Linked DNA regions of Homo sapiens. The protein of the gene in region 1 interacts with the protein of each later gene in a biochemical or structural test. Each region holds a gene or a part of one and is shown in the gene's direction. Other genes may lie near its edges. The genes, in order: NEK9 and BICD2.

Region 1 (3,816 bases):
TTTTTTGTGGTTTTTTACCCCTTCACTTTTCTTTGCCTACTCAACCTGCAAGGAAGAGATGTCAAGTCATGTTGAATCATAACTTCTGGTTGCAGTTTTCTTTGTTTTGTTTGTTTATGTGTGTGTGTATTTACTTAAATGGAGCTTTTTGTTTCTAATCCAAATATTTATTTTTTCTCTGCAGATGGTGGTGTGGTACCTATTTCAGATTGTTTCAGCAGTGAGCTGCATCCATAAAGCTGGAATCCTTCATAGGTAAGAAGTAAAAAAAATTATGGATGGATTCTTCCCTACCAATTCAGCCCCTACCGTGGATACCCCCCCAACAACACTTTTATTTTCTTGGTTAAGCAGCCAAGAGTTTTTCCATTGATATCACTAGGAAAGGAAAGTAATGAGCAATATTATTTTCACTCCCTGAGGTTAAACCATGTTTATGATCTAGGAAGAGTCTCCTCAGTAGCCAAGTACTACTGAAGTCATTTTACAGACAAAAATTTTAGAGTTCAGTTTGTTAATTCATCAGTAAAGCCTAGAAGGGCACTATGAGAAGTAGTATTTGGTAAGAATTCACAGCAATAATAATTGGCAATTCTTTTTAATTCTATAATTAAGATCTTTTAATTTAAATAAAAGCCTCTTCACTCTGTATATTTACTTGTACAAATTTACCAGATCTTTAAAAACAAGCATGATTGCATTCATTTCTAGCTATAGAAGAGAAGCATCTCAATAACATTTTCACATCATTATGCCCTTCTTAAGTGAGTCATTGACTGGTGCCAGAGATTAATTATAATACACTAAGATTTCTTTTTTTATTGGTTTGTTCATTCAGTTAACATGTATTTCTTGATAGCTATTAAATGGCTTCTGTTGCATGTTGTTATTTTCTTTTTAAAAGTAACAAAGTATATTGTTCTGGTTTATTCGCATCTTTCAATAAAGGAAGACATAGTGAACCAGGCACAGTTATTTTGTTTTACATATGGTCAATTTATCTTTAGAAAAATAGCCTGTGATTTTATTTAGATGACTAAATGGCCTAATCATATCATTGCAGGGACATGTAGGCCTCTTCTCTTGCCTTAACAGATTATTTGAAACTTTGACACCAACCAAGTTTGTTAAAGTTGCCTTGATATCACTTAATTCAAGGCATAAGTGATAGTTGAAGAGGTGTGGTATCTTATGGGAATTATGGTTACCTAGAGCACCATTTTCCTCATCTGACCGTCTCAACTTTTCCTAATAGCTTCAGTAGTATGGGAGATATTTCTATGCTGTGAAGCCCTAGAGGATGAAGTTAATTCTCTGCCTTCACTCCTTTAAAGTCCCCACTTCAGTGTTAAATAGCATGTGAAAGTGATGACCACTGTGGGATGTTTAGGATATCCTAAATGAATGAGCAATGGTAACACTCTTTTTTTGTTTTATTTTGTTTTAGTTTTTGAGACAGGGTCTCACCCTGTTGCCCAGGCTGGAATGTAGTGGTGCAATCATGACTCACTGCAGCCTCAGCCTCCTGGGCTCAACTGATTCTCGGTGCTTTAACCTCCCGAGAAGCTAGGACTACAAGTGTATGCCACCACTCCTGACTAATTTATTTTTTGTAGAGATGGGGTCTCACCATGTTGCCCAGGCTGGTGAAGAACTCCTGGCCTCAAGCAGTACTCCTGCCTTGCCCTCCCAAAGTGCTGAGATTACAGATGTGAGCCACTGTACCCGGCCCACACTCATTTTTATTCTGTAATAATCCTGGGCAAGGCGGGGGATGAAATAAAACAATTATCTGTGTGAACTTAATTTGCAGCATCTTTTTTTTTCAGAGATATAAAGACATTAAATATTTTTCTGACCAAGGCAAACCTGATAAAACTTGGAGATTATGGCCTAGCAAAGAAACTTAATTCTGAGTATTCCATGGCTGAGACGGTATGTGTTGCCCTTGTCTTAATTTTTATTTTATTTTCTAGCACTGTGAAATATAACTGTACTCCCTAAATCTTGCATACTTTTCTCAATATTCTTGCAAGTTCTCCATACTTTTAATGCATGTCTTCAGAAGTCTTTTTCCTGGGCCCACTAGCAGGCATTTAAGTCATTGCCCACGTTACAGCTCTGACCTCATAGCCTTTTTCCAGCACTGATTAGGGACTTATCTAAAAGCAGCAAAATGCTTTACTGTTTTGTCCAGGTTAGGATCTTTAGTAGATTTCACTTTATCTCTTATTTAATGTTTGAGCTCAAGGTGTTAGACATCTCTTTGTTTTTCCTTTGAATGCTTCTGGTTCAAAGAGAACCCTATATTTCAAGTGAAGGCTGATGCTCAGAGAACAATCCATTCTTTAATATTATACACAGTCTGAACTGCACAGGGGTCCCTTCTCACATGATTTTGAGAAAGATCATTGGTAAAGAGTAGACATAAGTTGATCTTTAGGACAGTAATCTTATCCTTTTAGGAATTATAAAACCCAGTTGTTATTCTTCTAGTTTCACAATGCTCTGTCCTTAAAAGAAATTGAAAACTGATTTTGGCCAATAATTTTTTTTTTAATAATGTCAAGGTTTGCCTGCAAGCAATTTAGATGTTTAGGGTTTGGAGTCTCTGCTTCAGGGACTCAGATGTTTCTATGATGGAGGCCAAAGTGAGCTTCTGAAGAAGCAATCATATCTTTATATGGATTTTTCTCATCAAGAACAATCTGATAAAACCAAGACTTGACTTTTTTTAGCTAGTTAAATGCAAAGAAGGAATGATATGAAAATTTATAAAAGCCATGTAAGCCATCTGAAATTTGCTTTGCTTTGCTGCTTAAAGCTGACTATGAATTTTATTAGAGCTGCTAGGGCATTCATTATATCTCATCTTGGGAGAGGCATGACTTCTTAGGACATTTTTATTTCCAAATTTATTTTTGAAGTCAGAAAATCTTTTTCAAATTCAAAGGAAATTCGCTAGCTGTGTTAGTATAACAGATGCCAAATTGGGCATTTTAAAAGTTTCATTGCGCGTATTTTAGTTAGAACATCTAATTCCTTCATTGAGTTACCATCTCCCCACTGCCAGTGTTTGGATTTTTTTCCCATTGGTGAACTTCTACTAAGTATGTCTTTAAGTTTGTGTAAAGTCTTCAGTAGGCCTTGAATGCCTGAAGCCTCTGTGATCTAGGAATCACAGAGCTATTGAGCCCCTCAAGTTACCACAGTTCCTTTGTCACAGAGATTGTCCCTTTATAATTGACCCAAGAGGTTTGATATGAATAAGATTTCTTTCCATAGTGGCATCGTCTCATAAAAACCATTTTGGAATCTGCTGATGAATGTTTTATGGTTGTTATGACTAGTTCCTAGGAAATTTAATTAAGCTGTTGAAATGTTAACATAGTTACCTCAGAAAAGAAGTTATTCTTTGATTGTTTCTTTGTTGCTCAGCTTGTGGGAACCCCATATTACATGTCTCCAGAGCTCTGTCAAGGAGTAAAGTACAATTTCAAGTCTGATATCTGGGCAGTTGGCTGCGTCATTTTTGAACTGCTTACCTTAAAGAGGACGTTTGATGCTACAGTAAGTTGGCATATTATCCCCATATTGCATTTAGCAGGTTGCAAATGGTACAGCTTGACTAAGCAGATCAACTCTATTCCCAGGCTTCTGATTTCTGGCAAAAATAACCTGTATTCAGGTACAAGATTAGTAATCTATTACTAAAATGCTATAGACCCAGCCAGGCGCAGTGGCTCACGCCTGTAATCCCAGCATTTTGGGAGGCCGAGGTGGGTGGATCACTTGAGGTCACCCCGGCCAACATGG
Region 2 (3,816 bases), on another chromosome or scaffold:
AGCTCCACTTTCTTAGCCCAGATCCCCTGTAGCATGGTTGGGGAAAGAGCCTGCGTTGAGGGTGACCACCATTACTGGTGACGGTTAGTGTTCTGAGGGCCCAGCATGAATTCCATTCTTTCCACACCCTGTGTGTCTTTGTCCACCTCACTGACAGCATGGCCAAGGAACCTGGGGCTGACAGCCTGCCCTGACATGGGGTGGGATGTCACTAGGCCATCTTGGGGGTCCTCCAAGCTCTCGGGGTCCATAGCAACTGACATGGTGTCCTGCTGCCTGTGCCTTTGCAGATGGAGCGGGAAAAGGCGGGCCTGCTGGCAACGCTGCAGGACACACAGAAGCAGCTGGAGCACACGCGGGGCTCCCTGTCAGAACAGCAGGAGAAGGTGACCCGCCTCACAGAGAATCTGAGTGCCCTGCGGCGCCTGCAGGCCAGCAAGGAGCGGCAGACAGCCCTGGACAACGAGAAGGACCGTGACAGCCATGAGGATGGGGACTACTACGAGGTGGACATCAACGGGCCTGAGATCTTGGCCTGCAAGTACCATGTGGCTGTGGCTGAGGCTGGCGAGCTCCGCGAGCAGCTCAAGGCACTGCGCAGCACGCACGAGGCTCGTGAGGCCCAGCACGCCGAGGAGAAGGGCCGCTATGAGGCTGAGGGCCAGGCACTCACGGAGAAGGTCTCCCTGCTAGAGAAGGCCAGCCGCCAGGACCGCGAGCTGCTGGCCCGGCTGGAGAAGGAGCTAAAGAAGGTGAGCGACGTCGCCGGCGAGACACAGGGCAGCCTGAGTGTGGCCCAGGATGAGCTGGTGACCTTCAGTGAGGAGCTGGCCAATCTCTACCACCACGTGTGCATGTGCAACAATGAGACACCCAACCGTGTCATGCTGGACTACTACCGCGAGGGCCAGGGCGGGGCCGGCCGCACCAGTCCCGGGGGCCGCACCAGCCCCGAGGCGCGTGGCCGGCGCTCACCCATCCTCCTACCCAAGGGGCTGCTGGCTCCTGAGGCGGGCCGAGCAGATGGTGGGACGGGGGACAGCAGCCCCTCGCCTGGCTCCTCACTGCCATCACCCCTGAGTGACCCACGCCGGGAGCCCATGAACATCTACAACCTGATCGCTATCATCCGTGACCAGATCAAGCACCTGCAGGCAGCCGTGGACCGCACCACGGAGCTGTCACGCCAGCGCATTGCCTCTCAGGAGCTGGGCCCCGCCGTGGACAAGGACAAGGAAGCGCTTATGGAGGAGATCCTCAAGCTGAAGTCGCTGCTCAGCACCAAGCGGGAGCAGATCACCACGCTGCGCACTGTGCTCAAGGCCAACAAGCAGGTGAGGTGCCAGGCAGCAGGGGCACATGTCACCTACTACTGGCCTAAGGGTGTTTCCCCCTTGGCCTCCTTCCTCCCCCTGCCACGGGGCCCCCCCAGGCCTGCGTCACCACCAGACAGAGCCAGCCCCATAGTAGCTCGACTGCCTACCCTCCCCTGCTCAGGGCCCCCAGCTGGGAGGGTGGAGCAGGCAGGTGGGTGTGAGGGCCCCTCAGCAGAGCTGCTCAGCCAGTGAGAAATGCCGCTGCCCTTGACTCACTGTGACTGCCTCGTAGTGCTTCCTGATACTGGAGGGAAAACATGTGAGAGCCATAGTCTGAGCTGTGGAGAGCAATTGTGGGGCTTCGTGGAGGTCCTGTTGGCAGGTTTAGGGGCAGTCCCTCCTCTGCCAGTCAGAATCAGCAGGTGGGACTCCCCATGGCGTAGCTGCTGGAGTCCATCCCCAGGGTTTGTCACAGGGAGGGGCCTCCCAGGAGCTTTCTTCCCAGGCACTGCCACCACTTCAGACCGGGGCTCCCGATCCTGCTCCCAGAGCACCTCTAGGCTGACTTCACGCCTTTCACTTTTCCACCCTACACATCTGTCCCCCAGACGGCCGAGGTGGCCCTTGCCAACCTGAAGAGCAAGTATGAGAATGAGAAGGCCATGGTTACCGAGACCATGATGAAGCTGCGCAATGAGCTCAAGGCCCTCAAGGAGGACGCAGCCACCTTCTCCTCGCTGCGTGCTATGTTTGCCACCAGGTAACCGTGCTGCTGTCGGGCCCTCCCCTTCCACAAGGCCAGCTGTCCTCAGCACTTGCCTCTGGAACCCTTAGCCTCTCACTGCCTCATGCTGAGGCCTGCAGCCCTGACTAGTCAGTGGCTGTGCCCAGCTCCATCAGGGCCAGCATGGTACGAGGTTGGGGAAGCATGGCCCCTGGCACATCTCTGGCACACTGGTGCTCAAGTTGGTGACAAGAAAGGGTGAGGCGATATGGGGGCCACATGGGGTTGGGGGCCCCTAGCTGCTGCACCTCAGCTTCCTCCGAGGTCACGCAAGCAGTTGCTGGAGCATAGGGCATGCCTGGCAGGTGCCCACATGTGGCCGGGGATAGCAGAGCGTGTGTGATCCTTTTAATGTTCCTTTTGCACCTAGCCCAGCCCCCAGGAGCCTGGTTCTGTGGCGCCGGTTCCATTTTGCTGTGAATGAAACCGCAGCAGGCCCAGGCTTGTCTCTGCTTTGCATATATGGAGACTGAGGGCAGAAGGGCTGAGGAGAGCAGATCCTGGAGTGGATGGGCCAGAGTTGCATAGCTTCAGGGGATGCTTGGGCTCCCACCCCTTGAATCCAACATTTACAGGGACTTAACTTGGGGCCAACAGGTGACAGAGGAGTCCTGGCCTTTCCTCTCATGAGGTATTTGCCCCCAAGAACTTGGCCATATGGCACAAGTGTGTATTTATGTTTGTAGATTCAGAAGGAAGATTATCCTCCTGGCTGGAGCAGGTCACTGCTGGGGTCCACAGTTCGGGTCCCACCTCTGTGCATAGCCCTGTACCTCTGCGTCATTGTGACCGCTGGGTACTCACCTCCCATCCTCTACTTTGCCAATCTGGGGAGGGTGAGGAGAGGGCCGGGGCTTGGAGGAGACCAGCTTTCTTTCTTCCTCTGTGGAGGGCTCTTAGTAATGGGCTCTGAGGTGGGCTGCCCCTGGTGGGTGCACACCCCTCCCTGGCTGGGACTCAGACCCCAAGGCTGGGAATCGAGGCTCCCTAAGTGTTCACAGGCCTCTGTGGGGCAGGTCCTGGTTTCAGCATCTTCCCAGGTGCCCCCTGACAGGTACCGCTGTCTTTCACTTTCCAAAGATGGGTAGCGCCACCTGCTGGGTCATGTTGGGATAGCACCATGGGGTCAGCCCTGCATGGGGGACAGCCAGGCCCACCATGGGCCCAGCAGATAACCTAGATGTTTCCTTTTTATGGGTGAGCAAGCTGAGGATCTGAGCTGGACAGGGTGGGAACTGCATGCACATAGGGCCTGCTTCTCTCAAGCCTGGTGCCGTGCACTCCCAGTTTCTCAGTATCCCTGCAGGACGTGCCAGAGCAGGGTACAGACAAGGAAGAGTCCCAGGATTTCTCTGGAAGCGTCCTGTCTTCCTGGGGCTTGGGGAAAAAATCCCACAGTTTCTCAGTATCTGGCATGTAAACCCTACCTTTTAAAATTTGTTTTATTTAAAAACTTTTCAGATGGAGCCAAGATTTTGAATCTGCAGGGATCACAGCTCTGTGTGCCCTCAAAAGGGTGGGCAGCAGAGTCCTTGGAGAGGGTGCTATCCAAGGGCCGGCTCCTGGCAGGTGGGGACAGGCAGAGTAGGGTGCGTGTGGGCAGGGTGGGGCTGTGCTCAGTGCCTGCACAGCCTCACCGCCCTGGGAGCCCTGGGATTTAACCCGCCCTTTGTCTCTACCAAGCCCCACCCATATGGGACATGTGGAAGAAGGGCA

Evidence for each region.
Region 2: of the proteins of NEK9 (region 1) and BICD2, one has a biochemical effect on the other in vitro, tested with the Homo sapiens proteins (one study listed by BioGRID).

The regions. Positions count from the first base shown.
Region 1 is NC_000014.9:75,116,949-75,120,764, reverse strand, and holds part of NEK9 (serine/threonine-protein kinase Nek9), read left to right. Parts: intron 1-184; coding exon 185-255; intron 256-1,829; coding exon 1,830-1,935; intron 1,936-3,438; coding exon 3,439-3,570; intron 3,571-3,816.
Region 2 is NC_000009.12:92,716,057-92,719,872, reverse strand, and holds part of BICD2 (protein bicaudal D homolog 2), read left to right. Parts: intron 1-290; coding exon 291-1,334; intron 1,335-1,924; coding exon 1,925-2,076; intron 2,077-3,816. UniProt on the Homo sapiens protein: Acts as an adapter protein linking the dynein motor complex to various cargos and converts dynein from a non-processive to a highly processive motor in the presence of dynactin.